Regions from separate parts of the Homo sapiens genome. Here region 2 is linked to region 1. Evidence: fine-mapped expression QTL. A gene starts in region 1. The other region holds a variant in brackets. All regions are shown on one strand. Distances are between the middles of the regions. Region 1 holds the start of DNM1L (dynamin 1 like). Region 2 holds the start of LOC124902914 (a long non-coding RNA gene).

What was found. PIP is the estimated chance that this variant, and not a neighbour inherited with it, causes the effect.
Region 2: its variant is the best candidate, but not a certain one, in a credible set for the expression of DNM1L in cerebellum (GTEx, PIP 0.79).

Annotation. Positions count from the first base shown.
Region 1 is chr12:32,672,350-32,687,748 of GRCh38, forward strand. DNM1L (dynamin 1 like) reads left to right here and starts at 6,952. Exons shown (of 20, transcript NM_012062.5): 1 at 6,952-7,116. The coding sequence starts at 7,015. RefSeq lists an enhancer at 1,845-3,044 and a silencer at 7,100-7,509.
Region 2 is chr12:32,644,875-32,660,201 of GRCh38, forward strand. FGD4 (FYVE, RhoGEF and PH domain containing 4) reads left to right here. Exons shown (of 17, transcript NM_001370298.3): 17 at 1-1,176. LOC124902914 (a long non-coding RNA gene) reads left to right here and starts at 5,624. Exons shown (of 2, transcript XR_007063270.1): 1 at 5,624-5,890; 2 at 7,236-7,485. The variant A/C (reference allele first, on the strand shown) is at 4,039.

The DNA.
Region 1 (15,399 bases):
CTATGATTTGAAGGTGCAGATACCGGCATCTTGGCTGTGATTGATGATCAAAATGTTGGCATAAAATGATATTGGACACATGCGATAAAAACAGTCTGACCTTTTCCAAGATCGATTAATTTCCAGTTATTAATTTAATCCAAAATAAACTTCCTCTAATTCGGGATTTTAAGTTAGAACAAAGCCAGGCTACTCCCTAGCTAAGTAACTTGGCATCTATTCTAATGAGGAGTCCTATGCCAAGCCAGACTCATATGTGTTGGTGAGATTTGATTGCCAGTCCTGGTTGCAATTATATCAATTCAGAGCTGCTTAAATCCTTGTTATTCCAGATTTTCCAAATAAAAAAGAAAAGAAAACCCCATATCCAGTAGACTAATATTATGTAACACGCTTCATACGAGGTAGTGGGGGAACCCAGCTAAATAAGATAATCACTTCTGCCCTTCGTGAGCTCACTATTGGTGAAGGGGGAGGGCATGTTAGTGCCATATCCACGGTTCCTCCCTACTCTCCAGCAAAATATACTGCCTGGCTAAGATCCGTATGCCTAACAAGTACTTCATCAATATGTGTTGAATTAATGAAGAAAGGAATAAATACACGAGGCAGAATGTGTAGCGGTTGAGAGTTTGCTGCCGGGCATGGTGGCTCACACCTGTAATCCCAGCACTTTGGGAGTCCGAGGCGGGTGGATCACCTGAGGTCAGGAGTTTAAGACCAGCCTGACCAATATGGTGAAACCCAGTCTCTACTAAAAATACAAAAATTAGCCTGGCGAGGCGGTGTGCGCTTGTAGTTCCAGCTACTGGGGAGGCTGAGACAGGAGAATTGCTTGAACCTGGGAGGCAGAGGTTGCAGTGAGTTGAGATCGCACCACTGTGGCGACAGAGTAAGACTGTTTCAAAAAAAAGAAAAAAAAGGGGGTTTGCCAAAAAGCCCCTTTTCATCCCATCTCTGCCACATACTAGCTGTGTAAATTTACCACTTCACTTCAATCCCTGGAGCCTCCGTTTCTACATCTCTAAACCTACTTCACGAGGCTCTGATAAAATGCTTAGTATAGTGCCTCACATACAATAAGCACTTAAATAATAGTTCAATAATATTGTGTGAAAAGGGCAACAAGGAAAAATGGAGAAATTCATATGGTTAACTATGGGGATTAGAATTCTGATGTTATGTGCTGTACAGCACATGTACATTTAAAAATATGGGAAAGTTGGCCAGGCGCAGTGGCTCATGCCTGTAATCCCAGCACTTTGGGAGGCTGAGGCGGGCAGATCACGAGGTCAGGAGATCAAGACCATCCTGGCTAACATGGTGAAACCCCATCGCTACTAAAAATACAAAAAATTAGCCGGGTGTGGCGGTGGGCGCCTGTAGTCCCAGTTATTCGGGAGGCTGAGGTAGGAGAATGGCGTGAACCCAGGAGGCGGAGCTTGCAGTGAGCTGAGATTGCACCACTGCACTCCAGCCTGGGTGATAGAGCAAGACTCTGTCTCAAAAAAAAAAAAAAATATATATATATATGTATATATATGGGTAAGTTACTGAATTTGGGGAAGTTCTTCAAGGTGAATAAAGAAGTTTATTCTTGCAAACCAATTTATTCCATGAGATAGGAAACATGATCTTTGGAGACATTGACTCACATGCTTACAGTTCTATAACCAGAGAGAGAAAATATTTTTGTTCAAATTCAGGTTAGGAAATTCTCAGAGAAGGATTCTAAATGGTCCTGCAGGTCCATCCCTAGACCAATCACCTTAACCAGGTGCAGTAGGCCCCTCCAATAAGTCCATGTCCTAATCCCTGGAGCCTGTGAACTTTATGTCTCAGGAGAGACTCTGTAGATGTGATTAAGGGTACAGGCCTTGAGACAGGGATATTATCCTGGGTTGTCCAGGTTGGCCAATCTAATGATGGGCCCTTAAACACAGAGAAGCTTTTCTGGGGGTCAGAGGCCTGATGACAGCAGAAGAGTTAAAGAGATGCGACATTGCTGGCTTTGAAGAGGTTGGAAGGAGGTAACCAGCAAGGAATGCAGGGGGCCCCTAACAAAGGCAAGGAGGTGAATTCCCTGCTAGAGGCTTTAGGAGGGTTTGCAGCCCTGGTGACACCTTGATTTTAGTCCAGTGAGACCTGTGTGAGACTACTGAACTATAGAACTGTAAAACAATACTTTTTTTTTTTTTTTGACATGGAGTCTCACTGTGTTGCCCAGGCTGGAGTGCAGTGGCGTGATCTTGGCTCACTGCAAGCTCTGCCTCCCAGGTTCACGCCATTCTCCTGCCTCGGCCTCCCGGGTAGCTGGGACTACAGGTACCCGCCACCACGCCCGGTTAATTTTTTGTATTTTTACTAGAGACAGGGCTTCACCATGTTAGCCAGGATGGTCTCAATCTCCTGAACTCGTGATCCGCCCGCCTCGGCCTCCCAAAGTGCTGGGATTACAGAAGTGAGCCATTGCGCCTGGCCACATTTTTGTTGTTTTAAGCCACTAAAATTGTGGTAATTTGTTAAGGCAGCAATAGGGAACTAATATACTAGAGAAGCAAGGCAGAAACCAGGTTCCTAGGTTTCAGTTCCTCCCCAGTTCTCTCTGCCTCATCTGCTGTGAGACAGCTTGCTGAATGAGATCCCCTACACCCTCCCCCACAGCACACTCACCTCATTCCACAGGAGTAAACTGCGTGAGAGAATGAAATAGACGATGTAGTGATAAGATGTAGAGCTCTGATTCTGCCTGAGCTCCTAGTTCCAGTCATTTTTTTTTTTGAGGTGGAGTGTCACTGTGTCACCCAGGCTGGAATGCGGTGACGTGATTTTGGCTCACTGAAACTTCCGCCTCCCGGGTTCAAGCAATTCTCCTGCCTCAGCCTCCCGAGTGGCTGGGATTACAGGCTCTCACCACCACCCCCAGCTAATTTTTGTGTTTTTAGTAGAGACGAGGTTTCACCATGTTGGCCAGGCTGGTCTTGAACTCCTGACCCCAACTGATCCACCCATCTCGGCCTCCCAAAGTGCTTGGATTACAGGCTAGAGCCACTGCGCCCAGACATTCAGTCATTTTTGAGGCAAGTTAGCTCAGAATTAAATTTCTGTCCTTACAATTAGCTATCCTGCCTAAATCATAAAGCTATGGTGAGAGAGGGATGGTTGCAGGAGAAGAGGTGTTTTTTGTTGTTGTTGTTTTTTTTTTTTGAGATAGAGTCTCACTCTGTTGCCCAGGCTGTAGTGCAGTGGCGCGATCTTGGCTTGCTGCAACCTCTGCCTCCCAGGTTCAAACAATTCTCCTGCCTCAGCCTCCCCAGTAGCTAGGACTACAGGCGCGTGCCAGCACGCCTGGCTAATTTTTTGTATTTTTAGTAGAGACGGGGTTTCACCGTGTTAGCCAGGATGGTCTCCATCTCCTGACCTCGTGATCCACCCACTTCGGCCTCCCAAAGTGCTGGGATTACAGGTGTGAGGCACCGCACCTGGCCGAGAAGAGGTTTTTTTAAAGGCCTTTTGATATCCGATAATGGTTTAATGTGATTCCCACAGGAAGCCACTGAAGAACACATTATTCTTAGATGCACAAAGACTCTTTTTTGTGGGAAATCCATTTAGCCACTTATTAGTTAAATTGATTTCCCACAAACAAGAGTGTTCTGAACTTAAAACATGAAAGCCGAAATTGGTTTTTTTTCTTCTTTTTTTTTTTTTTTAGTTGGAGTTTTGCTCTTGCCGCCCAGGCTGGAGTGCAGTGGCGCGATCTCGGCTCACTGCAACCTCTGCCTCCCGGGTTCAAGCGATTCTCCTGCCTCAGCCTCCCGAGTAGCTGGGATTACAGGCACGCGCCACACCAGGCTAATTTTTTTTTTGTATTCTTAGTAGAGATGGGGTTTCACCATGTTTGTCAGGCTGGTCTTGAACTCCTGACCTCAGGTGACCCGCCCACCTCGGCCTTCCAAAGTGCTGGGATTACAGGCGTGAGCCACCGGGCCTGGCTCTTTTTTTTTTTTTTTTTTTTTGAGACGGAGTTTTGCTCCTGTTGCCAAGGCTGGAATGCAATGGTGCAATCTCGGCTCACCGCAACCTCTGCCTCCCGGGTTCAAGCAATTCTCCTGCCTCAGCCTCCCGAGTAGCTGGGATTACAGGCGTGCACCATCACGCCCAGCTAATTTTTGTATTTTTAGTAGAGATGGGGTTTCTCCATGTTGGTCAGGCTGGTCTTGAACTCCCGACATCAGGTGATATGCCCACCTTGGCCTCCTGAAGTACTGGGATTACAGGCATGAGCCACCGTGCCCGGCCTTCTGTTTTCTTTAGAAGAAAACAAAAGCTCCATCAACAGAGGGGTGAGAAGCAAAGTGGGTAATATCTGACTATTATGTAATATTATCTTTGGTAGAAAGTCAAGAGACTTGGAATAAAACTGTTTTTTGGAGTTCTGAAATTTTTGTCTTATTTTATCTCTGAAAAATTTTTTTTTTGAAAATAATCAAAGAGGAGATGTTCACAAAACCTGTCAAGATGCCAAAACACCACTAATGGATCTTTAGGTCTTGGCTTACTTCATCCATTTGTTCACAGATATTTATTAAGCACCTGCCATTTGTCCTGCTGAACAAATCAAGCATGTTCCCCGCAGCCATTGTGTACAGCTAAGCAGGTGAATGGCACCCACTGGAGTTGCGTAGTGCACAACTTCCACTACTGCTGGTGGTTCTTGTCCTCATGGAGATTAAATTTAGTAACTTCTAGGAAGTCTTTCTCGAATCTCTATCCTCTTGCTCAGACTGGAAAAAGTGCTCTTATTATGTTTTCTTTTCTCTTTTCTCTTTTTTTTTTTTTGACACAGGGCCTCACTCTGTCACTTAGGCTGGAGTGCGGTGGCACGATCACAGTTCACTGCAGTCCCCACCTCCCAAGCTTAGGTGATCCTCCTACTGCAGCCTCCCAAGTAGTTGGGGCCACAGGTATGCACCACCACGACAGGCAAGCTAATTTTTTTGTATTTTTTGTAGAGACTGGGTTTTGCCGTGTTGCCCAGGCTGGCCTTGAACTCCTGACCTCAAGTGATCTGCCCGTCTCCTGCCTCAGCCTCCTGAGTAGCTGGGATTACAGGAATGCACCACCACGCCCGGTTAATTTTTGTATTTTTAGTAGAGACGGGGTTTCTCCATGTTGGTCAGGCTGGTCTTGAACTCCTGACCTCAAGTGATCCGCCTGCCTTGGCCTCCCAAAGTGCTGGAATTACAGGCGTGAGCCACGGTGCCTGGCCTCTCCTCACCTGCTTTAATTCTTTACTCAAATGTCACCTTTTTACTTTGAGGTTTACTTTTACCTTTGGAGGTTTGGAGTAGAGGAGGGATACTATCTGTCTAAAAAGAAAAACAACATTTAGAAATATAACAGTATGGGCCGGGCATGGTGGCTCAGGCCTGTAATCCCAGGACTGTGGGAGGCCAAGATGGGCGGATCACTTGAGGTCAGGAGTTCGAGACCAGCCTGGCTAACATGGTGAAACCCCGCCCCCCACCCGTCTCTACTAAAAATACAAAAATTTTCCCAGGGTGGTGGCGGGTGCCTGTAATAACAGCTACTTGGGGGGCTGAGGCAGGAGAATCACTTCAGCCTGGGAGGAGGAGGCTGCAGTGAGCCGAGATTGCGCCACTGCATTCCAGCCTGGGCGACAGAGTCAGACTCTGTCTCAAAAAAAAAAAAGAACGGTATGAGCAAAGAGTGAGTAAGGCAGTTATCAGATGTCTACTTTGCCAGGAATCAGGCTACAGCAAATAAAGGTTTATACATAATATTGATAATAAATGCCCAGCTCTTCCCCTGTAAAACTCCAATACTCTAAGATTTTTTTCATGAACACCGCCCCCCGCTGCTCCGACCCCTGCTTTTTTATTTATTTATTTATTTATTTGGTAGAGATGAGGTCTCACTATGTTGACCAGGCTGGTCTCGAACTCCCAGCTCAAGCGATCCTCCTGCTTCTGCTTCCTAAAGTGCTGGGATTACACCGCGCTCGGTCCTGAACACACATTTTGTTTGTTTGTTTGTTTGTTTACAAAACCCCTGGAGAACCCGCGTATTCTAACCTGGGCTGGTTTTTGTATTTTTGCAAAATAACACCCCACACATTCTCGTATCAGCGTGCAGATTTTTTTGCACCCAGTTTGGTTGTTTGCGGCCATAAGCTTTTCTTTAAGCCTTTCCAACCCGTCCTTCTAGAGAAAGTGTCTTCATAAGGAAGTCACACTGCTCACGCCTGTAATCCCAACACTTTGGGAGGCCGAGGCGGGTGGATCACTAGGTCCGGAGATCGAGACCATCCTGGAAAACACAGTGAAACCCCGTCTCTACTAAAAATACAAAAAATTAGCCGGGCGTAGTGGTGGGTGCCTGTAGTCCCAGCTACTCCGAAGGCTGAGGCAGGAGAATGGCGTGAACCCGGGAGGCGGAATTTGCAGTGGGCCGAGATCGCGCCACTGCACTCCAGCCTGGGCGACAGAGTGAGACTCCGTCTCAAAAAAAAAAAAAAAATAAATAAATAAAAAATAAATAAAAGGAAGTGACACTGGATAATTAAGAGACACACCATTGCGCCTTTAACACATATTCACACCCAGCACTGTCACATCCATCGTGCCTTGAGGACAGGCATAAATTTACGGCCTTCCTCCTGCGCTCCCGGCCTGCTCCTAGCCTTTGACTAGAGCCTGCGCAGCATCCCAGTCCCAGGCTAGGGCCCACCGGTGCCGCGCAGCCTCCTGGAAGCTGTGGGGAGTAGCGTTCCTCCGCTCCAGAACTACAACTCCCAGCAGGCCTTGCTCCTCTCCACCTCCCTCGCAGCGCATGGCCTGCCGGGAGGGGGCAGGTAGCCGGCGGGCCCGGTCCAATGGGTGCCGGCTTCCGAGGAGAGGGCGGAGGAGAGGAGGAAGGAGGCGAACTGTGGGCCCCGGCCCCATTCATTGCCGTGGCCGGCGGGCACTGGGGCCCCGTGTTTTCAGAGTCATGGAGGCGCTAATTCCTGTCATAAACAAGCTCCAGGACGTCTTCAACACGGTGGGCGCCGACATCATCCAGCTGCCTCAAATCGTCGTAGTGGGAACGCAGGTGAGAGCAGCAGGCGGCGTTCGCTCGGGCCAGACCCCGGCCGCAGGCCTGGTCGGTGCTGCGGCAGTGCCCACTCCCGCGCCAGCGCCCACTCCCGCGCCAGCCTTTGGGGCCTGTGGGAGGAGGGCCTTGCTGGGGGCCCCAGGGCTCTCCGGGCTCTGCCGCACCCGCCCTCCCGGGGCAGCGTTGCATCAAGGCGGAGAATCCGGGGCCCGGCCAGGGGCGGAGCCGGCGCGGCGGGCCTGGCTAGCCCGGCGGGTCCCGGGGACAGGAGAGGGAAGGATGGGGCCGGCGGGCGGAACTGGAGTCCGCTGGGACCGGGCGCGGCCTCGTCCGCGTGCCGCTGCCTCCAAGGGCACCTGGGGGACGCGCGGGGCACTCGGGTCTCGCTGGGCTCGGTGGGCTGGCTGTTCCCATCACTGTTGGCTTTCGTGAGACGGGTGTTTTATTTCCCTCCTTGCCTTGCCCAGGGACTGCGGAGTTAGTTTTGGAATCGCTCTGTTGAGGCTGAGAGACGCTACGGTGCGTGAGCGCCAGTGTTTTCCTGCAGTATAATTCCACCAGGTTTCGAGAACGCCGAAGCAGCATTTTAAAAAAAGAAAAACAAAACGTGTATCTAGAGTTCTGCGGGTGTTGGGAAGGAATATCCGATTTTTCTGCGTAGGCTGTGCTTTTTGTCTTCCACAGTTTTGTGATCGTGACCTAAATTGGGCATCAGTTTCTCTGGTCTTCTCATAGCTAACTCATTTTTTTTTGAATGCAGAAATGTTGGCAAAATAACTGTTATTTCTAGAGTGACAGAGGAGAAGTATAATTTTCCTTTTCTCTGCTACTTCGATTAGAGTTCAGAGAAACGGATTTTAGAAATTAGTATATTGATATTAAGTGCTTTCATTTCTTAATAGTATCTTTTCTATTGAGAAGGAGCGGTTTCCCCATCATTTTCCAGGAGGTACATAGTATAGGGTATAAGTGCTATCAGAAGGAACTTACTGTTCAAAGTATTAGTGGCTATCCAAACACTGGAAACTATAGACACCCTGTACTCGTTTGTTTGTTTGTTTGTTTTTTTGGCTTTTAAATAGTTGAAGCAATAGAAATTGTTTTAGAAACACATTTCCTTGGTCTGCGATAGGATTGGGAAAGATTCTGCTCAATCTTGCCTACGTATTCTAGTATTTGTAACAATATTTGTAATGTTTGGAGACTCAGAAGCATCAAACAAATTACGAGGATTATTTTTTATTGAACATAATTTTGTTCAGTCTGGGACATATAGTAAGTGCTCTGTAAATATTTTGAGTAAATATTGCTCACTCTAACCACAATGTTTTAAAACACTGGGACTTTTATCATCAAAACTAACCTGTTTTTGTAAAAAGTTAGAGATAATATAAATTAAGTCTTTGATAGTAAGTGATTCAGAAGTGTCTTCTAGCTGCACACTAGAAACTTTCCACATACTTTTAAAAGAGAGTCTCAGTGCTTTTTAAGCATGAGGAAGTAAAAGAATTAGGGATATAGTGTGTCAGCATAAATAGTTTAAAATCAATAAGTTGTTTTTTTCTTTTTACACAAAATAGAGTTTATTTTGGTCAGTAAACCTGTTGGCAAAATACAGAGTGGCAGGAGAGAAAAGTAAAGATCCCATCCTTCTGAAAGCCATTAACATGTGCAAAAACCATCCTAGTACTGACAGTTATATGCTATATTTGCATGTTGGTGTTTGAAATTTCTCAAGAGGTCAGTTTTTCTACTTGATTTAATGAGGGTTATTTCCATCTAAGTTCTTATTAGCTGATAATCAGTCTTTTACTCAAGTACAGAAGAAATACAGAATAGAAATTATCCGAGGTAGGCAGATCACTTGATTCCAGGAGTTCAAGACCAGCCTGGGCAACGTGGGGAAACTCCATCTTTACGAAAAATACGAAAATTAGCTGGGCATGGTGGTGCGAACCTGTAGTCCCAGCTACTCTGCAGGCTGAGGTGGGAGGATCACCTGAGCCTGGGAGGTTGAGGCTGTGGTGCGTGCAGGAGTGCATGTCACTGCACCCCAGCAGAAAGAGAGAGAATAGAAACTATTTTCTCCCCACACCGCCCCCCCCGCCCCTATTTTCTCCCCACACCGCCCCCCCGCCCCCGCCTTTTTTGTAGTGTGTTGGGGAAACAAGAATCTCTTCTTGGTTTGAATACTAGTATACCATTACTTTGTGATGTCTGCCATTTTTACTCTTTGGTGTTGTGTAACATATATGTATACCTCACATTTATATTTAATGAAGTAATTGTAGTGAGTGAGTTCCAGACATATAAGTGTTCTGTACTTAGTTCTGCCTAGTATACCTATCGGCAGTAATTGTGTCTTCAGAATACAGGTATAAATTAGCCAGGTGCTATGGTGTGTAGTGTGTGCCGGTAGTCCCAGCTACTTGGGAAGATTGCCTGAGTCCAGGAGTTTGAGGCTGCAGTGAGCTATGATTCTGCGATGGCACTCCAGCCTGGGCGACAGAGTGAGACCCTGATTCTTCCAAAAAAAAATTAAAAAACAACTTCAAGTGTAGTCTCTATCCTACATATTATCCATACCTTAAATGGCTTCAGTTTCTATCTTGTTGAACTTTTTGGAACAGTGATTCTCAGACTTGAGTGTGTATTAAGAATCACTTTGGTTTTTTTTTTTTGAGACCGAGTTTCGCTCTTGTTGCCCAGGCTAGAGTGCAGTGCCATGATCTTGGTTCACTGCAACCTCTGCCTCCCGGCTTCAAGTGATTCTCCTGCCTCAGCCTCCCACATAGCTGGGATTACAGGCATGCACCACCACGCCCGGCTAATTTTGTATTTTTAGTAGAGACAGAGTTTCTCCATGTTGGTCAGGCTGGTATCCAACTCCCGACCTCAGGTGATCCACCCGTCTCGGCCTCCCAAAGTGCTGGGATTACAGGTGTGAACCACCCCGCCTGGCCTAAGAATCACTTTGAAACTAAGTTTCCTGGATCCTGTCTCCAGAGATTTTGATTTTATAAGCCTGGGTTGGGTGAGGGACCATAGGTGATTCTGATACAGATGGTTCCTAGATCCTAATTTGAAAAACATATTAGTGAATCATTGGATTTTAAAATGCATGATACTGGAAAAAGCAGGAAAATTAGGGGAGGTTGAATCTATGGCATACTACCATCCAGTACCATGCTGACTTTGGTGGCATTCTTGCTTTAATATATCACTTCCCAGGCAACCATTGCTGACCCCTAAATGTTTTAAACTTTGGTTTTATGAAATGCCCAAGTAACACTCATTTGGGGGCTAGGGACTTGGAGGAGTGGAGGTGAGGGAATCCTGTTTACAGCTATCAGTCATTCACATGTTTTATGTGTTAGCTAAATAAATTGCTTTTATTTTTTCTAGTAGAGACCATCTGTGTGAAATGAACAGACACAGTGGGGAGAGAGAGAAGGCTGATGATACTTTTAGACCATGGTGTAACTTTGCAAGTAGAGGAGATAAGACTTAAAACAACTTTTGTGACTCAACTTGGGAAATTTAATCCTATTTCTTAAATTAAGAATTGGAAAGGGGAGCCCTCCAGGTATGTAATCTAAACTACCACCCAATATAGGTATCCGAATACAGATGACATTAACCTGAGACTCTGGCTTAGTGTTCCTAGTAATGTACTTTACACTTTTCCTTTTATTTCAGTGATTTCAGCATTCTATCTTCAGTAATTCAGACAAATGTAAAAGGAAAAACAATTTGGATTTTTTATTTTTATTTTTTTAGGGTCTGGCTCTTTCACCCAGGCTGGAGTGCAGTGGCATAATCCATAGCTCACTGTAACCTCAAATTCCTGGGCTCAAGCAGTCCTCTTGCCTCAGCCTCCTGAGTAGCTGGGACTACAGGCACGCATCTGGCTAATTTTTTTTTTTAAATTTAAAATCGCTGCCTTACTATGTTGCCAAGGCTGGTCTCAAACTCCTGGGCTCAAATGATCCTCTTGCCTTGGCCTCCCAAAGTGCTAGGAGTATAGGTGTGAGCCACTGCACCTAGCCTAAAAATAATTTGGATTTTATTTTATTTTATTATTTATTTTTTTAGAGATGGAGTCTTGCTCTGTTGTCCAGGCTGGAGTGCAGTGGTGCGATCTCAACTCACTGCAACCTCCGCTTCCCGAGTTCAAGTGATTCTCCTGCCTCAGCCTCCTGAGTAGCTGGGATTACAGGTGCATGCCACCACGCCCAGCTAATTTTTGTATTTTTAGTAGAGATGGGGTTTCACTGTGTTGGTCAGGCTGGTCTCGAACTCCTGACCTCATGATCCACTTGCCTTGGCCTCCCAAAGTGCTGGAATTACAGACATGAGCCACTGTGCTCGGCCTAATTTTTGTATTTTTAGTAGAGACAGCATTTTACAACGTTGGCCAGACTGGTCTCAAACTCCTGACCTCAAATGATCTGCCTGCCTCAGCCTCCTGCTGGGATAACAGGTATGAGCCACCATGCCCGGCCAGTAATTTGGATTTTAATTTCTAATTTGCAAATCAACTTTTAAAAATTTAACATTAAAAATACTGAAATATTCATGTAACACAAAATTCACCCTTATAAAGTATACACAACTCAGCAGCGTTTAGTATGTTCACAAAGTTGTACCACCATAGTGTAATTCCAAAATATTTTCATTACCTGAAAAAGAAAACTCCTGCCCATAAGCAGTCACCCCCGTTTTGTCCTCCCCCAGCTTCTGACAGGTTTTGATTTTATAAGCCCCACGTGGGTGAGGGTCCATCGGTGACTCTGATACAGATGGTTCCTAGATCCTAATTTGAAAAATATATTAGTGAATCATTGGATTTTAAAATGCATGATACTGGAAAAAGCAGGTATCACTGGCAACCACTAATCTACTTTTTGTCTGTATGGATTTGCCTATTTGGGATATTTCACATTAGTGGAATCCTATAATATGTGATTTGATCTTTTGTGCCAGGCATCTGTTGCTCAACATAATTCTTTTTTTTTTTCTTTTTTGAGACAGAGTTTTGCTCTGTTGCTCAGGCTGGAGTGCAATGGCACAATCTCAGCTCACTGCAACCCTTCACCTTCCGGGTTCAGGTGATTCTTCTGCCTCAGCCCGGATTACAGGCGCGTGCTACCGCACCCAGCTAATTTTTTTGTATTTTTAGTAGAGACGAGGTTTTGCCATGTTGGCCAGGCTGGTCTCGAACTCCTGACCTCAAGTGATCTGCCTGCCTCAGCTTCCCAAAGTGCTGGGATTATAGGCATGAGCCACTCAACATAATGTTTTTTAGGTTCATCCATTATGTAGCATGGCAGAATAATAAATATTACATTGTATAGATACAGCACAGTTTATTCATCAATTGATGAATTTTTGGGTTGTTTCTATTTTTTGGCTATTATGAATAAATAATGCTCTGCGAACATTCGTTTACAAGTTTTTGTGTGAATGTGTATTTTTTTTTTTTTTTTGAGATGGAGTCTCGCTCTGTCACACAGGCTGGAATGCAGTGGCGTGATCTTGGCTCACCGCAAGCTCCGCCTCCCGGGTTTACGCCGTTCTCCTGCCTCAGCCTCCCGAGTAGCTGGGACTGCAGGTGCCCGCTACCACGCCCAGCTAATTTTTTGTTTTTAGTAGAGACAGGGTTTCACCGTGTTAGCCAGGATGGTCTCGATCTCCTCACCTCGTGATCCACCCGCCTCGGCCTCCCAAAGTGCTGGGATTACAGGCGTGAGCCACCGCGCCCGGTCAGTGAATGTGTATTTTTGATTCTCTTGGGTATATATCTAAGCGTAGACTTGCTGATTCATATGATAATTCTTACGTTTAACTTTCTGAAAAACTACCAAAGTGTTTTCCATAGTGGCTGCACCTTTTTTTTTTTTTTTTTTTGAGACAGGGTCTCACTTTCTCGCCCAGACTGGAGTGCTGTGGCGCTATCTTGGCTTACCGCAACCTCTGCCTCCCAGGCTCAAGGCGTTCTCCTGCTTCAGCATCCTGAGTAGCTGGGATTACAGGTGCCCGCCACTACTGCCCGGCTACTTTTTGTATTTTTAGTAGAGGCGAGGGTTTCCTTATATTGGTCAGGCTGGTCTCGAACTCCTGACCTCAAATGATCCACCCACCTCGGCCTCCCAAAGTGCTGGGATTACAGGCGTGAGCTGCTGCGCCCAGCCGTGGCTGCACCATTTCACATCCCCTCCAGGGTTCAGGTTTCTGCACATCCTTATCAACACTTGTTGTTATCTTTTTTTTTTAAGCGCTAAATCATTCTGGAATTCTTTATTTGAAAAACAGCACTTTTTGACACCTATGCCATTTCCTTCTCTTATGGACAACTTTTTTCATAGTTTGATGTCCCTCTCTCTTTTTTTTCTCCATGAGCACTGCTGTCTACATTTTAGCATTTATTGACTATAATTTAATTCCTGCTTATGCATTGTTTTCTTGTGTTCTTAGATAAATTTATGTTTTTCTCTTTTTTTGTATAGATTATGAGCTGCTGCTTTTTTTTAACTTAACAAAATTGAGGTGAAATTTGCAGAACATAAAATTAGCCTTTTTTTTTTTTTTTTTTTTTTGAGATGGAGTTTTGCTCTTGTTGCCCAGGCTGGAGTGCAATGGCGCGATCTCGGCTCACAGCAACCTCCACCTCCCGGGTTCAAGTGATTCTCCTGCCTCAGCCTCTCAAGTAGCTGGGATTACAAGCATGTGCCATGCCTGGCTAATTTTGTATTTTTAGTAGAGACAGGGTTTCTCCATGTTGGTCAGGCTAGTCTCAAACTCATGACCTCAGGTGATCCGTCCACCTCGACCTCCCAAAGTGCTGGGATTACAGGTGTGAGCCACTGTGCCCAGCCAAAATTAGCCCTTTTATAAAATGTATAATTCAGTGTCATTTAGTGCATTCATAATGACATCTCTGTCTAGGTCCAAAACAATTTCATCACGAAAGAAAACTACTATTGAGCTGTCACTCCCTCTTCTTTCTTTTCCATTTAATGGCTGAGTAATATTCTGTTATATGTATAAACCACATTGGTTTATTCAATCACCTATTGATGAGCAATTGGGTTGTTTCTGCCTTTTAGCTGTTGTGAATAGTGCTGCTGTGAATATTGGTGTACAAGTATTTGAGTACCTGTTATCAGTTATTTTGGTATATACCTAGGAGTAAAATTACTGGGTTCTATGGTAATTTTGTTTAACTTTTTGAGCAACCACTTTTCCACAGCAGCTACACCATTTTAAAATTCCCACCAGCAATGTTTGAAGGGTGCAGTTTTTCTGTATCTTTGTCAACATTTGTTATTATCTGTTTTTGATTATAGTCATCCTAATGGGTGTGAAGTTTTGTTTTGCATTTCCCTAATGACTAATGGTGTTGAACATCTTTTCATGTGTTTGTTGGGGTTGTCTTATTGTTGAGGTTGTAAGAGTTCTTTTTTTTCTTTTTTTTTTTTTTTTTTTGAGATGGAGTCTCGCTCTGTTGCCCAGGTGGCCAGGCTGGTCTTGAACTCCTGACCTCAGGTGATCCGCCTGCCTTGGCCTCCCAAAGTGCTGGCATTATAGGCATGAGCCACCACACCCGGCCTTGTCTTTTTGCTTCCTTGTTAGTGTCCTTCAATACACAAAAGGTTTTACTTTTGGTTAAGGCTAATTTATCTTTTTTTTTCCTTTTATTGCTTTATGGTGTCATATCTAAGGCATTGACAAATCCAAAGCCGTGAAGATTTTTTTTTATTTTTTAATGTTTTTTCCCCTAATTATTTTATAGTTTTGGCTTGTATATTTAGGCTTTTGATCCATTTTGAGTACATCTTGGTATGGTATGAGGTAGGGGTTCATTTCATTTTTTTTGCACGTGCTTCTCCAGTTGACCTAGTACCATTTGTTGGAGAGACTGTTCTTTCCCCATTGAATAGTCTTGGCATTGTTGAAAATCAGTTGAGCAAAGATTTTGTTGTTGTTGTTGAGACAGGGTCTCACTCTGTCACCCAGGCTGGAGTGCAATGATGCAGTCTTGGGTCACTACAGCCTCCACCTCCTGAGTTCAAGCGATTCTTCTGCCTCATCCTCCCAAGTAGCTGAGACTACAGTCACCTGCCATCACGCCGGGCTATTTTTTTTGGTATTTTTTTTTAGTAGATACGGGGTTTTGCCATGTTGGCCAGGCTGGTCTTGAACTCCTGACCTCAGGTGATCCATCCACCTCGGCCTCCCAAAGTGCTGGGAATACAGGCATGAGCCACCATGCCTGGC
Region 2 (15,327 bases), 28 kb before region 1:
CTGTTTACTGAGGCAAAAAAAAAAAAAATCTGAAGTCAATCATGGTCTTCTACTTTCTGGACTGAGCATTTGGCAGAATGCAGTATCTTTTCCTGTATTTTGACATGAAATAGCACATGGCTTCTACAAGATAGTTTTAACTTGTTGGGGTCACCGGGAGTTATATGATGGTCAACCCCTTTTCCCAAAATTCATTGTGGTAGTTTTAGTGGAAAACGTAAATCAAGAAATCTCATATCATACTTTAATAAATAAATACCAAATACATAGTGACATATAGGTTTGGGAAGAAACTAGTCTGTGGGGACCATTATAAGAGAATCACATTATATATTACACAGTATATGGATATTGGAATGTATCACTTGTGGGGGGTTCTCTTCATTAGCAAAACAGTCATGTCTGTCTGTATATAAGACTTTTTTTTTTTTAACCAAACTAGCATTTCATTTTGTGAGTGACAATTGACATTTTAAAATAAGCATAGGCCGGGCATAGTGGCTCATGCCTGTAATCCCAGCCCTTGGGAGGCCGAGGTGGGCAGATCACTTCAGGTCAGGAGTTTGAGACCAGCCTGGCCAACATGGTGAAACCCTGTCTCTACTAAATAAAAATAAAACAAAATAAGTGTATCTGGGCCAGGCACGGTAGCCCATGCCTGTAATCCCAGCACTTTGGGAGGCCGAGGAGTTCGAGACCAGCCTGGCCAACATGGCAAAACCCTGTCTCTACAAAAATTAGCCAGGTGTGGTGGCACATGCCTGTAATCCCAGCTACTCGGGAGGTTGAGGCAGGAGAATTGCTTGAACCCGGGAGACAGAGGTTGCAGTGAGCCGAGATTGCACCACTGCACTCCGGCCTGGGTGACAGAGCAAGACTTCGACTCAAAAAATAAAATAAGCGTATCTGGATTTTTCTTTTGAATTCTTGACTGATAAGTTTGAGAATGTATGTTTTTGGAATTTTACAGTTGACTCAAGTGTGAAAGTATACACAAGTAATTTTTCTTTTCTAGCTATGTGAATGTAAAATACTTGCAGATAATGTATATATTGTGTAATATATGTATATTTGGTCATAAAAGCAGATAATTGGAAACATTGTAAAATTAAGCACTTTAATTCCTATTAAATATTAAACATTTGTATCTTGTAAATAAACACATCCTTAAATTAATTCCAAAGCTTTACATGTTATTTCAGCTCATGTTCAGTTCACAGTGATTTCAGTTCTGCTCAGGAAAGTTACTCCAGTAAGGTACTGATACTCCTACCTCCAACCTACCCTCTGCCAAAAAAAAAAAAAAAAAAGTGTAAGTCTTTCAAGAATAAAGCTTATGACAGACTCAAGGTTCTCCAAGTATAGAAACAGTGGCTTCTCTTTGTTATAACTCCAAGTCTAGATCTCCAACAACCGACAAAACAGTGCTGCTCCATACCCAAGGAAACGATTGTTTTGCTCCATAGTTTGTGGTGTTTGCCTACATTCTAGAGGCTTATCCAGTCGGCCCACAGTGTCTATGGGAGACTGGTTCCAGGACCACTCACAGGTACCCAAATCTGCTCATACTCAAGTCCCTGAGCTCTCTGGAACCCACAGATACTGAGTCAAACCTCCGTATTGGTGGGTTTTGCATCCTGATGGAATACCGTGTTTTCATCCACATTTGGTTGTAAATGTGGAATCCATCAATGCAGAGGGCTATTTATTGAAAAAAAGTCCACATATAAGGACCTGTGCTTCAATCCTGTGTTGTTCAAGGGTCAACTGTATAGTGAAATAAGCACGAAAAGAGAACTCAAAAGAACTGTTGAGGCCGGGTATGGTGGCTCACACCTGTAATCCCAGCACTTTAGGAGGCCGAGGCAGGCAGATCATGAGGTCAGGAGATTGAGACCATCCTGGCTAACACAGTGAAACCCTGTCCCTACTAAAAATACAAAAAATTAGCCGGGTGTGGTAGCGGGTGCCTGTAGTCCGAGCTACCCGAGTGGCTGAGACAGGAGAATGGCGTGAACCCGGGAGGCGGAGGTTGCAGTGAACTGAGATGGCGCCACTGCACTCCAGCCTGGGTGACAGAGTGAGATTCTGTCTCAAAAAAAAAAAAAAAGTCTTAGTCCTTGTCTTACTGGTCATATGACCTTAGACAATTTACCTGAATCCCAATAATGAATTCCTGTGGTCACTACAAGAAACATCGCACTCGGTGACTATGAAACGCTATACAAATAATATGTCATGGAACACTTCGGAGTTTCATACAGCTACTCAATTGGCTTTAGCCTTTTTAAAGCCCTGAAAAGGAATCCTCATGACTTCCACTGTGATTTCATAACTAAAACATTTCCAGAGATAACCCTTCGCAGAAGCCTATTAGCTTTTTTAGGACACGAAGAACTAATCAACAATTTTAAAATTGATGCTTTAAAGCAATTGGCATCAGCTGAAGGATTCTGTAAAATAAACATTGCCCTTGGCTCACAAAGGGACCCAAATGTGATTTGGGTCCACATTACATCAGAGTGGCATAATTCAAGGCTTCTCAAACTCTAATGTACACATGAATCACCTGGGGATCTTGTTAAACTGCAGACTGACATAGTGGCCTGCGATGCAGTTCTAACAAGCTCCCGAGGGGTGCTGCTGCTCCTCAAACCATCACTGGAGTACCAAGCTTATAGTGGGAAGGACTTAGTGTCCGAGACCATTGACTAGAAATCCCTGGCTCTACCACTTATGTTTGAGCCTTGAAGACTTGTGAGACTTACATGAGACAATCATATATTGTCTGGCCCATATGAGATATTCAGTTCATAATTGTTAATAGAGATCATTTTTGTTAATTCAAAAATTTGCAGCCCTGACTGCACATGTGAATCACCTGCAGAGTAGTTAGAGCCATTCCCTGGTCCCCATCCCCATCCCCCTCAAAAATTCTATTTATTTGTCTGCATTGGCCTCCGAGTAATAGTCGGTTCAAAAATTCCCCAGGTGATTCTGATGGAAAGCTTCATTTCAGAAGCACTGGTAGAATGTTTATTCAGTGCTTAGTTCTGTGCTAAGTACTGTATTTACATTATCACATAAAAGCCTCACAATAACATTCTAAGATTCAGATAAGAAAACAGATTTGGCCAGGCGTGGTGGCTCATGCCTGTAATCCCAGCACTTTGGGAGTCGGAGGTAGGTGGATCACTTGAGGTCAGGAGTTCAAAAACAGCCCGACCAACATGGTGAAACCCTGTCTCTACTAAAAATACAAAATTAGCTGGGCATGGTTGCGCACGCCTGTAATCCCAACTATTTGGGAGGCTGAGGCAGGAGAATTGTTTGAACCCGGGAGGTGGAGGTTGCAGTGAGCTGAGATAGTGCCATCGCACTCCAGCCTGGGCAACAAGGGTGAAACTCTGTCCCTACCTCCCCCTCTCCAAAAAAAAGAAAGAAAACAGATTTTAAAAAGCTAATAATTTGTCCCTCAGCTCTTGATGTCCTCTCTTCTACCCTTACCCATTTTAAATCCGATGTTCAGTCACTGATCACTCCCTCACATTCACTCACTTCCTTCGCCACGTCTAGCTTTGTCTCGCTTGGCAAAACCAAATCCCCAGTTTACTCAGTTCTGTTTTCATACTTGTACCCATGTGGCTGAACAAAGCAGATTGGTTTCACCTAAAATTTATTACTAGGTCATCACTACTTCCTCCTGAGACCTCCACTGTATCCCCAATCCTCCATCCCAATAGATGACCTTCCTTCCCACTTTAGTAAAATACAAGCAATCAGCAGGGGACAGCCTCCCACAACCATATCTAAGCCACCTATTACCTCTTGAGACCATATACTCTCTCTCCCTGCCTATCCATGTCCTGTCCTAATTGGGTCCCTCACCTGTGCACAGTATCCAATTTCCCATTCGCCTGCCATTCTCCCTTTCTCATGTAATGTCAGATTTCTTCTTGAATCTTATTAGCGAAAACCTGCTATAATTCTTCCCAACGTAAGCCTCTTCACTCCACTTTTCCTCCCATTAGCAGCAAC[A/C]CTCCTTGAAAGAGTTTTCTATACTTACTGTCTCCAATTCCTCTCTTCCCGTTCTTTACTGAACGGATTCCAGTCAGCATTTTGCACCCACCATTTCACTGAAACTGCTCTTATATCAAGGTTACCAATAACTTGTATGCTGCTAAATTCAATAGTCAAGTTCTCAGTCCTCATCTTAGTAGCATTTGACATACTTGGTCATGCTCTCCTTAATTCACTTTCTTCCCTTGGCTTGTAGAACCCCAAACCCTTGGATTTTTTTTCTATTTATGTATTTACTTTAGGGATGGGGAGGTCTCTCCATGCAGACCAGACTGGTCTTGAACTCCTGGACTCAAGCGATCCTCCCATCTCAGCCTCCCAAAGTGCTGGGATTACAGGTGTGAGCCATAGCGCCCAGCCCCAAACCCCTGATGTTCTTCTCTTGAACCCTTTCTTGGTCTTCTTTGCTGTTTTTCACACCTTTCAGGGGTGTCTCAGGCCTAAGTATGTTGTGACTTATCTCCTTTATCTGCACTCATTCCACTAGTATTCACACATACTTTCATACTTTCATGCTGTCAACTCCGAACTTTATTTTATTTATTTTTTGAGACGGAGTCTCGCTCTGTCGTCAGGGTGGAGTACAGTAGTGTGATCTTGGCTCACTGCAACCTCTGTCTCCCAGGTTCAAGCGATTCTCCTGACTCAGCCTCCTGAGTAGCTAGGACCACAGGCACATGCCACCAAGCCCAGCTAATTTTGGTATTTTTAGTAGAAACGGGGTTTCACCATGTTGGCCAGAATGGTCTCGATCTCTTGACCTCGTGATCCACCTGCCTCGGCCTCCTAAAGTGCTGGGATTACAGGTGTGAGCCACCGCTCCTGGCCCCAATTTTATTTTTACTTATTTATTTTTGAGACAGAGCCTTGCTTTGTCGCTGAGGCTAGAATCAGTGGCATGATCACAGCTCACTGCAACCTCTGCTTCCCAGGCTCAAGCAATCCTCCCCGACTCCAGCCTGAGTGACAGAGCAAGACCCTGTGTCAAAAAGAAAAGAAAAAAAAAAAGGAAAAAGAGAAAAAACAGGACTTCAAAATATAATGGTGAAAATCTTAGTCAACCTTGGCACAGTGGATTCTTGTTTTTAAAAAATCAGTCTCAGAGCTAGGCATCATGCCTGTAATTCACCTGGGAGGCTGAGACAGGAAGATCACTTGAACCCAGAGTTCGAGACCAGCTTGGGCAACATAGCAAGACCTGCAGCTTAAAAAAAATAAAATTAGGCTGGGCGTGGTGGCTCACGCCTGTAATCCCAGCACTTTGGGAGGCCGAGGCAGGCGGATCACGAGGTCAGGAGATCAAGACCATCCTGGCTAACACGGTGAAACCCTGTCTCTACTAAAAATACAAAAAAATTAGCTGGGTGTGGTGGCGGGTGCCTGTAGTCCCAGCTACTCAGGAGGCTGAGGCAGGAGAATGGCGTGAACCTGGAAGGTGCAGCTTGCAGTGAGCCGCGATCACGCCACTGCACTCCAGCCTGGGTGACAGAGCGAGACTCCATCTCAATAATAATAATAATAATTTAAAAAATAAAAAATAAAAAAATTTTACAAGAAAAAATATATATATAGAGAGAGAGAGACATACAGTCTCAGCCCACTACCACCACCATTATCACAGCACCTGGACTGTGAGGAGATTAGAGGCAGCTGATGACTGTCCCAGAAGGAGCCGAAAGTGCTGAAGGACAGACATCCTGAGGAAATGGGGCTGGCAGAGTGGACCTGGCAAATGGTTTGGATAATGAGCGCCTAGGCTACCATCACTTTCTTACAGAGGAAGTGATTCATGCACTGTTTTGTCCTGCAGGTAAGTAAAAACAGAAAACCAGTTTGCTTACTCTCTTAGTAAAGGAAATGCTCTGCTTTTATAGAATAAGATTAGGGCCTCATAGCCCACTGTGGCATTTTCACAAAAATTGCTATTTTTAGATGATCACTTAAATATGTCATTATCATACACCAAACAAAAATAATTACGGTGCAAAAAATTAACTTAAAAAATTGTTTCCACATAGAATCATGTTATGTTTAAAAGTGGGAAAAATGTATGTCATCTGAAAGATCATCTTGTGGTTTTTTTTACTATCTGCTGAATTTGTGTGTATGTCTATGTATGTGCTTGAAGACTGGAGAACAGGAAGGCACAGAATGAATACAGGGTAAATGAACCAAAGGATCCAGGCCCACAGTTATAAAAAAAATAGGAGGAAGAACTCTCAATAAAAAAGAATTATTTGCCACTTTGAGAGGACAAGGTGGGAGAATCACTTGAGGCCAGGAGTTAGAGACCAGACTGGGCAAGATAGTGAGGACCCTCCTATCTTTAAAAAAAGTAGTAATAATTAGGTGGGCATGGTGGCATGAGCCTGTAGTCCCAGCTACTGAGAAGGCTGAGGCAGGAGGATCGCTTGAGCCCAGGGGTTTGAGGTCGCAGTGAGCTATGATTGCACCATTGTATTCCAGCCTGGGTGACAGAGTGAAACCCTGTCTCAAAAAAAAAAAAAAGAAAGAAAGAAAGAAAGAAAGAAATGAAAAATTATTTGCTAAAAAAAGTCATGATGCTTTCGTGAGTATACCTTTTTGCAGAGTTTTGACTTTTGAACCATCTCAGTGTTTTATAAACAGACACACACACACACACACACCCCTAATGGTGAACACTCCCCTCCCCCATGGAGTACAAATATAAACAAGTGAACATATCCATATATCAAATGGTACCAAATGAAAAACATAACCACACTGAAGAGAAAAAAGAACTAACTCAAACTTTTGCATACAGTATGTGGACTCAGAGTGCAAACAAATATTGAACTCTAGATCCCTGGCTTGTTTTTCCCAGTGGTAGAGCTTAGTAGTTCTAACATGTGTTTATTTGTTTTGCTGAGTTCTAGAACTCAGTGAATGTGATAGTTCATATTGAGTGTCAACTTGATTGGATTGAAGGATGCAAAGTATTGTTCCTGGGTGTGTCCGTGAGGGTGCTGCGAAAGGAGAGTAACATTTGAGTCGGTGGACTGGGAGAGGCAGACCCACCCTCAATCTGGGTGGGCACTGCCTAATCAGCTGCCAGCGCAGCTAGAATAAACCAGGCAGAAGATGGAAGAGCAGACTTGCTGAGTCTTCTGGCCTTTGTCTTTCTCCCGTGCTAGATGCGTCCTGCCCTTGAACAACAGACTCCAAGTTTTTCAGCTTTTGGACTCTTGGACTACACCATTGGTTTGCCAGGGGTTCTCAGGCCTTTGGCCACAGACTGAAGGCTGCGCTGTCGGCTCCCCTACTTCTGAGGTTTTGGGACTCAGACTGGCTTCCTTACCCCTCAGCTTGCAGACGGCCTATTGTGGGACCTCACCTTGTGATCGTGTGCATCAATACTCCTTAATAAACTCCCCTTCATATATACATCTATCCTATTAGCTCTGTCCCTCTAGAGAACCCTGACTAATCCAGTAAATAAATATGCTGAGGATAATGGGAGCCAAGTTTCCTACTGTCAGAGAAAGCAGATATAGATGTGGAAGGGGGGACATAATAAATCCTATGTTATTGGAATGGAAAATAGGTATTAATGGTTTAGCTAAGTATAAATATAGATATAGTACATATAATACCTATGTGGGGGGTTATATAAATGTACATATACACATATTTTCTAGCTGTCTGCTGTGAGGGTCTAGAAGTAATACCCCAATTTTGTTTTTGTATTTTGTTTTCTAAACACCATTTTCCACTAAAAAGAACCAGCATTCCTTGAAGAAATGGTTGATTCAAGGGCTTGGGCAGGAAAAATTCACAATAAGCCTGGAATATTATATTGTACCAGAAAGTAAGAAAGGGCCCAAAGAATGATGGGGACATGTCAGAAGAACTAGGAGGCAGCTTGAAGGGTCTCCCACTGGCAAAATCTGGGACAGTTAAACATAAAAATTAACAAAAAAAATTTAAAATGATGGCAATGGATTATAAAATCCATTGAATAAAGGAGGAACACAGGAATCCAAACATATGAAAGAATGAATAAATAAATGATAAGAAAAAGTGCTTATAGTAGGATGTCAACAAGTAAGTGTAGAAGAAATGATAAAATGAAAACATTAGCAATTGACAAAACAAAGGAATCATTCAGAATCCTCAGTGGACATTGATGGGTAAAAAATTCTTGACCAGGATAACTACATAATCTCAAAATATGTCTCCATAAAATTGCTTTTTTGTTTTGTTTTGAGATGGAGTCTTGCTCTGTCCCCAGGCTGGAGTGCAGTGGCAGGATCTCAGCTCACTGCCACCTCCACCTCCGGAGTTCAAGCAATTCTTGTGCCTCAGCCTCCCAAGTAGTTGGGACTACAGGCGTGAGCCACCACGTCCAGCTAATTTTTGTGTTTTTAGTAGGGACATGGTTTCACCATCTTGGCCAGATTGTTCTGGAACTCCTGGCCTCAAGTGATCCGCCCACCTCAGCCTCCCAAAGTGCTGGGATTACATGCTGAGCCACCGCGCCTGGCCCATAAAATTCTTATTAATTACAAAAATAAAAATAGTAACTTTGCAGTAGAAAAACTTGGTGGACAGCATCTTAACCAAGTTAACATTACCAGTGAGGACAAACTGGTCTCATGTATCTCTTGATATGAAGCACTGAGAGGACACATCACATCTGTTGTTTTCCTGCTAAAAGTGAAATCTATCTGAGTATTTGGGGTTACATGACAAACTAAATACATTTTTAAAAGTGTAATCTAATCATGAGGAAATAACAGACAAACCCAAACTCAGGAACATTCTATAGAATACCTGGCCTATATTTGGCAGGGCACGGTGGCTTACACCTGTAATCCCAGTACTTCGGAAGGCCGAGGCAGGCGGATCAGGAGGTCAGGAGATCAAGATTATCCTGGCTAACACGGTGAAACCCTGTTTCTACTAAAAATACAAAAAATTAGCCGGGCTTGGTGGCGGGCGCCTGTAGTCCCAGCTACTCGGGAAGCTGAGGCAGAATGACATGAACCTGGGAGGCAGAGCTGGCAATGAGCCAAGATTGCACCACTGCACTCCAGCCTGGGCGACAGAGCGAGACTCTGTCTCAAAAAAAAAAAAAAAAAAAATTACCTGGCCTGTATTCTTCAAAAATGTTAAATTCAGCTGGGCGCAGTGGCTCACGCCTGTAATCCCAGCACTTTGAGAGGCCAAGACGGGTGGATCACAAGGTCAGGAGTTCGAGACCAGCCTGGCCAATATGGTGAAAGCCCATCTCCTCTAAAAATACAAAAATTAGCTGGGCTTGGTGGCGGGCACCTGTAGTCCCAACTACTCGGGAGCTGAGGCATGAAAATCACTTGGGAAGCGGAGGTTGCAGTGAGCCAAGATCATGCCATTGCACTCCAGCCTGGGTGACAGAGTGAGACTCCGTCTCAAAAAAAAAAAAAAAGTTAAGCTCATGAAAGACAAAGACAGACTAAAGAACTGTTCCAGGTTAAAGGATAGAAACACATGATAAGTAAATGCAATGTGCGCTGGACTTAGGCCACAATTTATTCTTTCTTTTTTTTGGCTATAAAGGATATTATTGAGATAACCGTTAAATGAATAACATCTGTAGATTAGATCATCATACTGTAGCTGCTAATTTTTCTGTTTTGACCATTGCACTGTGGTTATGTAAGAAAATATCCATGTCCTTGAAAATATACACTGAAGTATTTGAGGAAAAAGACACATCGTGTCTGTAACTTATACTCAAATGGTTCAGAGATGAGAGAGAGGGAGAAAGAATGATAGAGCAGAAGCAATGTGATAAAAATGTTAAAAGAATCTAGGTGAAGGGTAAACTAGAGTTCTTTTAAAATACTTATGACTTTTCTGTAAGTCTGAATATATTTCAAATAAATTGAAGTTTTGGAAGAAATGTAAATTAAAATGAGATATTACTACACACCTGTTAGAATGGTCAACATCGAGACACTGACCACAAATGCTGACAAGGATGTGGAGCAACTGGAACTCTCGCTCATGGTAGGTGGGAAGGCAAAAGGGTACAGCCACTTTATAGTTTGACAGTTTTTCTTGCAAAACTAAACTTATACGAACCAGCAGCACACTCCTTGGTATTTACCTAAATGAGTTGAAAACTTATGTCCACACACAAACCTGCTACAGAGCAGCTTTATTCACAATTGCCAACACTTGGAAACAACCAAGACGTCCTTCAGTAGGTGAACAGATCGACAAATGTGACAATGGAGTATTATGCAGCACTAAAAAGAAATTAGCTATCAGGCTATGAAAAGACATAGAGGGACCTTAAGGGCATTCACCAAATGAAAGAAGTCAACTAAAAAGGCTACATATTGGCTGGGTGCAGTGGCTCTTATGCCTGTAATCCAAGCACTTTCGGAGGCAGAGGCAGGCAGATCACTTGAGGCCAGGAGTTCGAGACCAACCTGGCCAACATGGTGAAACCCCATCTCTACTACAAACACAAAAATTAGCTGGGTGTGGTGACACGTGCCTGTAGTCCCAGCTACTTGGGAGGCTGAGGCATGAGAATCGCCTGAACTCAGGAGGTGGAGGTTGCATTGAGCCAAGATCGTGCCATTGCACTCCAGCCTGGGGACACAGCAAGACTCCATCTCAAAAAGAAAAAAATATATATATATGGAGACATATTTTGAGATTATGTAGATATCCTAGTCAAGAATTTTTTACCCATCAATGTCCATTGATGATTCTGAATGATTCCTTTGTTTTGTCAATTGCTGATGTTTTCATTTCATCATTTCTTCTACACTTATTTGTTGGCATCCTACTATAAGCATTTTTTCTTATCATTTATTTATTTATTCATTCATTCATTCATTCATTCATTCATATGTTTGGATTCCTGTGTTCCTATTTTATTCAATGGATTGTATAATCCGTTGCCATTATTTTAAATTTTATGTTAATTTTTATGTTTAACTGTCCCAGATTTTGCCAGTGGGAGACCCTTCGAGCTGCCTCCTGGTTCTTCTGACATGTCACTTGAGCCTAAGAGTTTGAGACCAGTCTGAGCAACATAGTGATACCCCATCTCTAAAAACAAAAACAAAACTACATATCATATGATTCCAACTATGTATATGACATTCTGAAAAAGGTAAAACTTTGACACATTAAAAAGATCAGTGGTGGCTCACGCTTGTAATTCCAGCACATTGGGAGGCCAAGGTGGGCAGATCACTTGAACCCAGGAGTTTGAGACCAGTCTGGGCAACATAGTGAGATCCTGTCTCTACAAAAGATACAAAATTAGCCAGGCATGGTGGCAGGTAGTCCTAGCTACTCAGGATGCTGAGGTACGGGAATCACTTGAACCCTGGAGGCGGAGGTTTCAGTGAGAGGAGATCACACCACTGCACTCCATCCTGGGTGACAGAATGAGACTCTGTCTCAAAAAAAAGAAAAAAAGAAAAGAAAAAACAAAACAAAACAAAACCCATGTATGAGATTAGAGCCCCAAGTCCAGAGAGGAGCAGTTTCTCAAACTCTTGCTTCAAACAGCCAAAGTAAAGATTAATGTCTATTAAATTAAAAAAAAAAAAAAAAAAAAGCCGGGCATGGTGGCTCATGCCTGTAATCCTAGCACTTTGGGAGGCCGAGGCGGGAGGATCACAAGGTCAGGAGTTCAAGACCAGCCTGGCCAACATGGTGAAACCCATCTCTACTGAAAATACAAAAATTAGCCAGGCATGGTGGCGGGCACCTGTAATCCCAGCTACTCGGGAGGCTGAGGCAGGAGAATCGCTTGAACCCGGGAGGCCAAGGCTTCAGTGAGCTGAGATCACTCCACTGCACTCCAGCCTGGGCAACAGAGCAAGACTCTGTCTCAAAATAAAATAAAATAAAAGCCTAGCTGTTTTTTTTCTTAATTTTTCTTCTCTGTCTTTTCCATTTTTTCCATCTAAAAATTTAAAGTTTAAGAAGAAATACATTGTTATTAAGGAACCACCAATATCCACTTTATCCATCTAACAAAATGATAGCACCAGCCCACTAGTAGCAGTTGGCCACCTAGGATAGTTTGCCAGTAGTGGTAACCAAGGGCCAGGTCCACCCTTCCTCTCAGCTTTGGTGTATTATCTGGCAGTGGAGCTGGGCTCCACACAGAAGAGAGATCCCCAGCTCCCACACTTCGCATTACTATTTGTTACCTGAGCCCCAGTTATACTGTGTGTGTTGCTTAGGTCTTTGGGCTCAACAGATTCCTTGGACAACATAACAACCAAACACAACACATAATTCCTTCAGCTTCTGCCAACAACTCACTGTTTATGGGGCTGTGATGTGGGCCATGGGGCCAGCCTGAGATCAGGAACAGATGGGACATGTAGGCTCCCAGGTAAAGTAATATCTAGGCACCCTTTAAAATCAATATTCTTGAAATAGTTGCTCAACATGAATTTATTTTATTGGGTTTTTTTATTTGTTTTTGAGACAGGGTCTCTGTCACCCAGTGGCACAAACGGCTCACTGCAGCCTCAACCTTCTGGGCTCAAGTGATCCTCCTACCTTGGCCTCCCAAAGTGCTGGGATTACAGGCATGAGCCACTGCACCTGGCCTCAACATGTATTTAGAGCACGGAGGGATGAACAAAATAGTCAGACTTCTGGGGGAGAGCTGGCAATCTTTCCATTGTATCTGCGCTCTTCAGTTTTGGGGAGAGAGTTGTGTATATTTACTACTCATCAAGTAAAAGGACGTGGAATCAGCTGGAACAGGTTTCACTGGAAAGCTGTTTAGGGATCATTTATTGTTGCTCAAGAGTGCCCTCTAAGGGTTTCAAACTATGATAAGTGACTAACCACATTCTGTGCTCTGCAGGAGTTCCGGCAAACACAACTTTCTCCATATCACTATGGTTTCAGAGATGCCTAAGTGCTCATTGATACTTTAGCATCCCTTACAGGATGGCAACACCGGCAGCTCCCCGGCCAGCCCCCCTTATCCTGCTCTGCTGGGAAGAACAGTCTACAATGCGGCCGCCCCATGGTCAAGTTGCCCTTGCTCCTTGATTCTGTTATTCTCCTTTTCTTAAAAAAAAAAAAAAAAAAAAAAAAAAATCAAAGCAAATTTCTCCAACCTTATCCACAATAGAACTCACGACCGAATCCAAGGGATAGACTACTGTCACAGCTCAATCTTGACCTGGGATCCCCCATATATAGGTGTTATATAGGTGTCTCTCTCTCTCTCTTTTTTTTTTTTTTTTTTTTTTTTGAGACAGAGTCTCGCTCTGTAGCCCAGGCTGGAGTGCAGTGGCGCGATCTCGGCCCACTGTAAGCTCCGCCTCCCGGGTTCAAGCGATTCTCCTGCCTCAGCCTCCCTAGTAGCTGGGACTACAGGCGCCCTCCACCACGCCTCGCTAATTTTTGTATTTTTAGTAGAGACGGGGTTTCACCGTTTTAGCCAGGACGGTCTCGATCTGATCTCGTGATCTGCCCGCCTCGGCCTCCCAAAGTGCTGGGATTACAGGCGTGAGCCACCGCGCCCGGCTAGGTGTCTCTTTATAAAATAGAGATCTGGCCGGGCGCGGTGGCTCACGCCTGTAATCTCAGCACTTTGGGAGGCCTAAGGCAGGTCAGGAGGTCAGGAGTTCAAGACCAGCCTGGCCAAGATGGTGAAACCCCGTCTCTACTAAAAATACAAAAAATTAGCCGGGCATGGTGGCGGGCGCCTGTAATCCCAGCTACTCGGGAGGCTGAGGCAGAGAACTGCTTAAACCTGAAGGGGCGGAGGTGGCAGTGAGCCGAGATCGCGCCATTGTACTCCCGACTGGACGACAAAGCAAGACTCCGTCTCAAAAAAATAAAATAAAATAGAGATCCGGGCCGGGCGCCATAGCTCACGCCTGTAATCCCAGCAGTTTGGGACGCCAAGGCGGGTGCATCACCTGAGGTCAGGAGTTCAAGACCAGCCTGGCCAACAAGGTGAAACCCTGTCTCTACTAAAAATATAAAAATTAGCCAGGCATGGTGGTGGGCACCTGTAATCCCAGCTACTCCAGAGGCTGAGGCACAAGAATCACTTGAACCCGGGAGGCAGAGGCTGCAGTGAACGGAGATTGTGCCACTGCCCTGCCTGGGCAACAAAGAGAGACTCCGTCTCAAAAAATAATAATAATAAAATAAAATAGAGATCCACTGTTTGTAGTCTGAGGTCCTATTAGTTTTATTTAAATTGTACCCTAAGCACTTCCCCTCCTTCCAAAACAGTTTTCACAGTAACAGCCAAAACCTGAGGGTTTAGTATCTGCTAGCCACTATTCTAGGAACTTTATAGAAATAATTTCATTCATATTCCATCACAGTTTTTCAGTGTAAGCATTGTAAATAATGCATCAAGAAACATCTTTGACTTGTTACTGAGAGTTCCATCTGTGATAAAGGGCAGATGTCATAGAAAACCCCTTTGGCAGGTGATTCAACTCGAAGGAGAGGGTGGGAGGAAGCAACATCTGAGAATCATGTGAGCTGTGTTTCGGAAATACACACATCTGTCCCACATCCTGCTGCCCTGTGGATTTGATATGCCTGAGGCTGCATGCTGGCAGGTGGGCTTGGGTGTATAATTTTCTCCCAAGTGATTCTCACTCATTCCATTTTTTTGCCTGTCCCTCATCCCCATTTTTAAAAATTATTTATTTATTTATTTATTTATTTATTTATTTATTTATTATTGAGATGAGTCTTGCTGTGTCACCAAGGCTGAGTGGCATGATCTCGGCTCACTGCAACCTCTGCCTCCCGGATTCAAGCAATTCTCCTGCCTCAGCCTCCCGAGTAGCTGCAACTACAGGGCTGTGCCACCATGCCCTGCTAATTTTTGTATTTTTAGTAGAGACAGGGTTTCGCCATGTTAGCTGGGCTGGTCTCGAACTACTGACCTCAGGTGATCCACCCACCTTGGCCTCCCAAAGTGCTGGGATTACAGGTGTGAGCCACCACACCCGGCCCCTGGTCCCCATTTTTATGAACCATTGTGATAAAGTTGAGGAAAGGCCATTAGTCTTAAGGGTTGCACTCAGGCGCAGTACCACAGCCCTGTGCAGCCAAGACTTCAGTGCTCTGCCTGCTCCCTGTGACAGCACACCCTCCTGCTGTCCACCCAGCTCCACAGGCTTCACTGAGAGGCTCTCAGGTAAGCCTCAGCCTGTTGTGGGCTGTCTAGACTGAAAGCAAAGATAGCTATCTGGCTGGAAAAGAGAAAGG